Homo sapiens: one gene and its partner. The protein of the gene in region 2 purifies or fractionates together with the protein of the main gene of each other region. This does not show direct contact. Each region holds a gene or a part of one and is shown on either strand. Other genes may lie near its edges.

Region 1 (3,647 bases), on a different chromosome or scaffold from region 2:
GAGTGCAGTGCCACAATCTTGGCTCACTGTAACCTCTGCCTCCTGGGCTCAAGCAATTCTCCTGCCTCAGCCTCTCAAGTAGCTGGGATTACAGGAGCCCACCATCACACCTGGCAAATTGTTGTATTTTTAGTAGAGACAGGGTTTCACCATGTTGGTCAGGCTGGTCTCAAACTCCTGACCTCAAGTGATCTGCCCACCTCGGCCCCCCAAACTGCTGGGATTATGGGCGTGAGCCACCATGTCTGGCCCCAGCTAATTTTTGTATTTTTAGTAAAGATGGGGTTTCGCCATGTTCACCAGGCCAGTCTCGAACTCCTGACCTCAGGTCATCTGCCTGCCTAACCATTCCAAAGTGCTGGGATTACAGGCATGAGCCACTGCGTTCAGCACCCAGAAGAAATCTTTCCAAAGCACAACTCTGGGCCGGGCATGGTGGCTCACGCCTGTAATCCCAGCACTTTGGGAGGCCGAGGCCGGTGGATCATGAGGTCAGGAGATCGAGACCGTCCTGGCCAACATGGTGAAACCCCACCTCTACTAAAAATACAAAAATTAGCTGGGTATAGTGGCATGCGCCTGTAGTCCCAGATACTCGGGAGGCTGAGGCAGGAGAATTGCTTGAACCCAGGAGGCAGAGGCTGCAGTGAGCCAAGATCACACCACTGCACTCCAGCCTGGCAACAGAGCAAGACTCCGTCTCAAAAAAAAAAAAAAAAGCACAAATCTGACCTGGCACCTTGCTTGCTAGAATCTGCCATGGCTCCCCAGTGCCCTCAGGAGCACAAAGATCAACTCATTACCGTGCCCTCTAGTGTGAGCTGACCCCATAGAATTTCTCTGGCCTCCTCCCTTACCACTGCCCATGCCATCCTTCTCCACTCTGCAGCCCGAGGAAGTCTGTGAAAATGTAAATCTGAGCACAAGGCTTACTCAAGAACTATGTATGGCTCCCCACTGCCTTCAAAATAGGGCCCACACTTCCAAGCCAAACCCCACAAAGCCCTGTGTGTCCTGCCAACAACCCTCTAGACCCTGCTGGGACCCTGATTCCAGCTGCTAGGAGGCCCAGCAGGGACAGAAAAAGGTGAGCTTACCTTTGGCGTAGGTGCTGACAAGGGTGGCAAAGTTAGCAAGGAGGGTGAGCGGGGAGAAGTCAGCAAGGTCGGTGATCTCCAGAGTATGCAGCAGGGACCGGAGGCGTTCAGCACAGAATCTGGCGGGGAGGAGAGACGGGGTCGGGGGGCAGACGGAAGCATGAGCAGGACCAGCAGCCCTGCCTCCGCCATCACGACGGTCACGTGCCTGTCTCCCCAGCCAATGAGCACTCAGTGAGGGTGGGCACTGGGCCTGTTTTGGAAACTTGCACCCCCACGCTGTACACCTGCATGTCACAAATAGCCATTGCCGCATAATGGCACAGACAGAGCAATAATCAGACACTCCAGAGTCATGTGGTCACTTGTCACACCTGCTAGCACGACCTCCTAAGTGGGTTCTTTTTTTCTTTTTCTTTTTTTTCTTTGTTCAGATGGAGTCTTGCCCTGTCATCCAGGCTGGAGAGCACTGGTACCATCTCGACTCCGCCTCCTGGGTTCAAATGATTCTCCTGCCTCAGCCTCCCAAGTAGCTGGGATTACAGGTGCCTGCCACCACACTCAGCTAATTTTTGTACTTTTAGTAGAGACGGACTTTCACTATGTTGGCCAGGCTGGTCTTGAACTTCTGACCTCGTGATCCACCTGCCTCAGCCTCCCAAAGTGCTGGGATGACAGGTGTGAGCCACTGCACCTGGCCCTAAGTGGGTTCTGATCAAAACAAGAGACGCACAATCACACCCAGAACCCCCCAGTCATGGCATTAATCCCGCATGGCCACATGGTCACGCATTCACACCCAGAGCCTCTCCCACTGCCTCTCACGCACCTATGGGGACACACACGGTGTCGGAACCCCATGGGCTCACAGAGGAATGCAGTCAACACCCACATCCCACAGAGTCCCACGGATACCACGTCCACACACTCACGCATGTGCAGGGCCACTCGGCCACAACCACACACAGGCAGGGCCGAGGCAGGGTCATAGAGCAGCTGGCTTTGAAGCCAGGTGGGCAGTCACACTTGCAAACCTGCCTCCCGCACGTCAGCCCTCCCAGCCTGGCTCCTCTAACCCCAGGCGCCTACCCCGGCTGGTCGCTAGCTGAGGATGAGTCTGTCCCCTCCACTGGGCCATGGAGCCTCTACGGCTGTGTCCCCAGCATGAAGCAGGCACTTGGGGAATGTGTGTTGAGTGACTGAGATCCCCTCTTTGCCCTCACAAGTCTCCAATCCTGGGGAAGATGGGCAAACCCACATGGAAGGTGGCCTCACCCACAGAGGCAGGGCAGCCAGGGCCTTTGGAGCCCACAGGCATGGCTTCAAGCCCCAACTACCGGGCACAGTGCTGTGTGGCTCTGGGCAAAGGCTTCCCCTCTGGGAGTCCCAGTGTCCTCATTTGCAGGGTGGGGATGCTGTACTGGGGGTGCAACTGAGGTAAGGAACATAAAGGGCTTAGCTCCTCCTTAGTGCTCAGGGCAGGGTAGGTGATTGGCTTCGCTGCTCTCTCATTAACCCACCAAAGAACCCTGTGAAGTAAAGACCCGACTCCTTGGCCATTTTACAAAGGAGGAAACTGCAGTTCAAAGAAGACCCATGACTTACCCAAAGGAAAAGCCCCCTCGTATCCCTTGGTCATTCTCTGCCTGCCCTGTGCCTCAAGAGACTGACTCCCCCAAAATGCGCCCAGACTACTCCATGGGGACGCCCCTGCCCTCAGGTTTGGAAGATTAGAGGCATCGGTGGGAAGATACATGGGCCGGGGACACCTCCTCCAGCTCCCAGCCTGCGAGGCCCTGGTACTGGTTTCTGCTCCCAGCAGAAGCCCCTGTCCAGGCCCCCACCAGTTGGTTCTCAACACACTCCCTCCCTGCCGCTGTGGCCTGGCTTAGCTCCCAGCTCTCACCTCCCACCCTCCTTGGCTCCTCCCCCAGCCCGCCCCTCTGTAAATGGTGCTCCCACTCTCTCTTGGGTGGGGGAGATTCTCCAATCCAGCCAGGTGTTGCCTGCCAGGCCCCTGCCCGACGCACGGACCCAGGATCAGCTCCAACCTTGCTCCCGGACCTCCCAGGTCAGACCAGACAAGGTCCCACGTGCCTCGCCCAGCTCACTCACTCCTGATGCTGCAGTGGTGACCTGGGGCTACAGGCGTGGAGGACACGGCTCTGCATAACCGGGACCTGCCGGGCCCCCACCCCGCGCGCTGTCTGGGGCCGCACCTGAGGGGCTTGCGCTGGATGCACACGCGCTGGGCCAGGCCGCTCAGGAAGGCGGGCGGGCTCTCCTGCACCACATGCTGCACACGCAGCCGCCACTTCACGTACTCCAGCAGCCGCCTCAGGAAGCCCAGGAAATGCTCGGCCGTGCGGATGGAGCCAGGCACTGCCTCTGCGAGGAGACGCTATCAGCGGCGACGGGGAGGCGGGAAAGGGACTGGGGGGCAGCGGGGGGTCGGGGCTCACCCTGCAGCACTTCGTCGGGCAGCACGGGGTTGGCCAGGTGGGCGTCCGTCTCCCGGGCGGCGCTGGCCTCCCGCAGCCCCTCCACCAG
Region 2 (3,647 bases):
CTCACTACATATTTTTCAAATCAGATATTTATTCTTATCTAGAATCACCTGGAGATAAATATAAATGAATGTTAAAAACTACCAAACCACTTTAAATAGAAGAATGTTATTATGGTATATAAATTATATCAATAAATCTGTTTTTTTCAATGCCAATGAAGACCCTATCATAGACTGCTACATATGAAAAACTGAATTCTATAGTCATGTTATACATATCTTCCCTGGGATTTATATATTGAAGGTATAAACTACCAAAACAATTTTACATGAGCCTGATATACTGAAAATGTTAAATAACATCTAGATGTTTTCTAGAATTTTTCAAAATCCTTAGGCAATTCTAAGAACTAGATATGGTATACTGGCTCAATTTTTTCTTATGCTTCATTTCTTAACACTAACCATTTTCTTTCTGGAAAACTGTCTTCAGCTTTGGAACTTTGCTAAAATCAACACGTTTATATTCTTCATCTTCTTTCACCACTACATCTGGTTGACCTAAAATAAAAATATTTTAAGTAAAATCGCTCAAAACAAGTAGTCATTCAGCAAGCAACTGTTGTACAAGATGCCTAGTAGTCTGTGCCTCCCTTTGTATCCCTGCTTCACTTAAACCATCCCAAGTAAACACTCATCTAGAATCTGTTAACTATAACCTCTATTATGTTACCATCTTAAAAAGAGAAACTTACAAAGTAGCTTCACAATTTTTTTTTTTTTTTTTTTTTTTTTTGAGGCAGGGTTTCCCTCTCCTGCTTAGGCTGGCATGATCACAGTTTACCTCATCCTCTCCAGGCCCATGTGATCCTCCCACCTCAGCCTCCCAAGTAGCTGGGACTACAGGTGGGAGCCACCACAGCCAGCTAATTTTGTTTGTTTGAAATGGTCTTGCACAGTCTCCCAATAGAGTGCAATGCTACAAACCTAGCTCACTGCAGCCTCGGACTCCTGGGCTCAATTGATCCTCCTGCCTTGGATTCCCTAGTAGCTGGGACTACAGGCGTGTGCTGCTATACCCAGCTAATTTTTAATTTTTTTGTGTGGAGGCCAAGTCTCACTTCGTTGCCCAGGCTGGTCTCAAACTCCTGGGCTCAAGCAATCCTCCCACCTCGGCCTCCCAAAGTGTTGGGATTACAGGTGTGAGCCACTGCACCCAGCCACAAAATTTAAATCTTCTACACCTCCATGTCCCCTTTTCTTCCTCAACTCCCTTCTATGATCACAGACCCCACTCTCCTGACCCCAGAGGCAGCTGTCTGACCTACACTAGATAAGCTCTAGTATTCTGTCACCTAGAGCACAGTAATCATTCCTGGAATAGAATTGTAACCTAAAGCAAGTTAATGAGTCTTCATTGTGGATTTATTCTGCTGGAACTGGTGAGAAAGTCTCTCCTTTTTGAGAACCCTATATATGTGACCCTAGAGGTAGAGGCAGCAACTTTAGAAAGGCTGAGAGAATAAAGCACAAAAGCCTGCAGGTGTGAGAAGCCAAGAGAGCATGTCTTAGTAGTAGTGAACACCCAGTTCCAATCCCTGAAGTTCCCAGAGCTGAATGGTTGCTACTGTTCATCCTTCAGTTCTTGGAGGCACTCCCGGTAACCTTCTAGTAAATCCCTTTTCAATTTAAAATACCGTATTGACTGTCACAGGAAAAAGTTCTAATAAATTTCTCAAATTTAAAGTAATACTCAGGGATCTTATAAATGGATTGAAATCTGACATTAAGTTGGGTAGATTTATATTCTCTCTGAACTGGCAACTCTTCACTTTTTATTAACCATAAGCAGTTGAAATGAACCAAGATAATGTCCTAATTTAAAACTTAAGCATAAAACATTCAGCAACATGAAAAGTCTATTCATCCTTTTTGGAACATTATCTCTACCTTTTACTGTAACTGTGACAGGAATAACTTCATTTCCAAATTTCCCAGCTTCCCATGCTGCTTTACTTCTGGTATAAGAATTAATAGCATAAGCGTCCTGTTCATTTCGTGCAATATTCAGCTTCTTTGCTGTATTCTCAGCACAGCTGCCCTGATAAAAAGTTGAAATATTTTAAAGTTAACTTTGCATAATTTAGAAAATATCTATTAACTTTGCCTAACTTATAGTGTTTAATAGTTAACGTTTCTTAAAATATATTTCTTAGGCCGGAGGTGGTGGCTCATGCCTGTAATCCCAGCACTTTGGGGGGCCAAGGCAGGCAGATCATGAGGTCAGGAGATCAAGACCATCCTGGCCAACATGGTGAAACCCCGTCTCTACTAAAAATTAGCCGGGCATGGGGGCACGTGCCTGTAGTCCCAGCTACTCGGGAGCCTGAGGCAGGAGAATTGCTTGAGCCCAGGAGGCGGAGGCTGCAGTGAGCTAAGACTGTGCCACTGCACTCCAGCCTGGGCAACAGAGCAAGACACCATTTCAAAAAAATAATAATAACATATATATATACACACACACATATATATTTCTTTCTATACCAGGTCACTTTTCACTCATGTCTTTTTTTGAGACGGAGTTTGACTCTTGTCACCCAGGCTGGAGTGCAGTGGTGCAATCTTGGCTCAATGCAACCTCCACCTCCCGGGTTCAAGCAATTCTCCTGCCTCAGCCTCCTGAGTAGCTGGGATTACAGACACCACCACCACGCCTGGCTAATTTTTTTGTATTTTTAATAGAGACAGGGTCTCACCACATTGGCCAAGCCGGTCTCAAACTCCTGACCCCAGGTGATCCACCTGCCTCGGCCTCCCAAAGTGCTGGGATTACAGGCCAGAGCCACCGCACCCAGCCACTCATGTCTTATCTTCACATACTTGAATTAGCCAAGCAGTTGCCAGCTAAGCGTCAGAAATTACCCTATTTAAATGTGGGAAAATTTCTTTAATGACTGAGCCATGCCGATGCAATAGGCATACAAAAATATTCTCCAAAAGTACACGGCTAAAATCAACATTTATAGAGCCCATCTTTCAGTTCAGTTTGTAAAGTACATAGAGTAAGAAAAATCAAACAGTATTGGACATTAGATAGCATTTATCCACTAAAAATCACATTTACCATATGAATTTTATTGTAGACATCAGTTAGCCCGTCTTTTACAATCAAATCTTCAAGCTTTACCCCACCATATGGTGTTGATCCTCTGTTCATTACATATGGAACATTGGACATGCTCTCCATCCCACCTGCCACCATCACATCCTGCGCAGAAACACCAGAAAAACCCAATGTTAATACAAATATTTTGCAAACCCATGACACCCTTTATACAGCTACCACCAAACAAGTATTCTACATGCATTTATTAAACATTTGTTACACAGTGAATACAGGAAGTACCCTCTTTACCACTTCACCCTGATGAAAAGAAATGGTGTTAAATAATATAATGAGAAATAAGTTGGCTGGGTGCAGTGGCTCACACCTGTAATCCCAGCACTTTAGAAGGCTGAGGCAGGTGGATCACTTGAGGTCAGGAGTTCTGGATCCGCCTGGCCAACATGGTGAAACCCCGTCTCTACTAAAAATACAAAAATTAGCTGGGTGTGGTGGTGGGCACTTCTAATCCCAGCTACTCGGGAGGCCAAGGCAGGAGGATTGCTTGAACCTGGGAGGCAGAGGTTGCTGTGAGCTGAGATTG

The links. The genes of interacting proteins can lie anywhere in the genome.
Region 1: the proteins of ACAT1 (region 2) and ERCC2 fractionate together in Homo sapiens (co-fractionation; one large-scale study listed by BioGRID). This does not show direct contact.

Annotation. Positions count from the first base shown.
Region 1 is NC_000019.10:45,360,427-45,364,073, forward strand, and holds part of ERCC2 (general transcription and DNA repair factor IIH helicase subunit XPD), read right to left. Parts: coding exon 3,560-3,647; intron 3,486-3,559; coding exon 3,317-3,485; intron 1,217-3,316; coding exon 1,098-1,216; intron 1-1,097. UniProt on the Homo sapiens protein: ATP-dependent 5'-3' DNA helicase. Component of the general transcription and DNA repair factor IIH (TFIIH) core complex, not absolutely essential for minimal transcription in vitro.
Region 2 is NC_000011.10:108,138,459-108,142,105, reverse strand, and holds part of ACAT1 (acetyl-CoA acetyltransferase, mitochondrial isoform b precursor), read right to left. Parts: intron 3,209-3,647; coding exon 3,065-3,208; intron 2,042-3,064; coding exon 1,891-2,041; intron 502-1,890; coding exon 406-501; intron 1-405. UniProt on the Homo sapiens protein: This is one of the enzymes that catalyzes the last step of the mitochondrial beta-oxidation pathway, an aerobic process breaking down fatty acids into acetyl-CoA.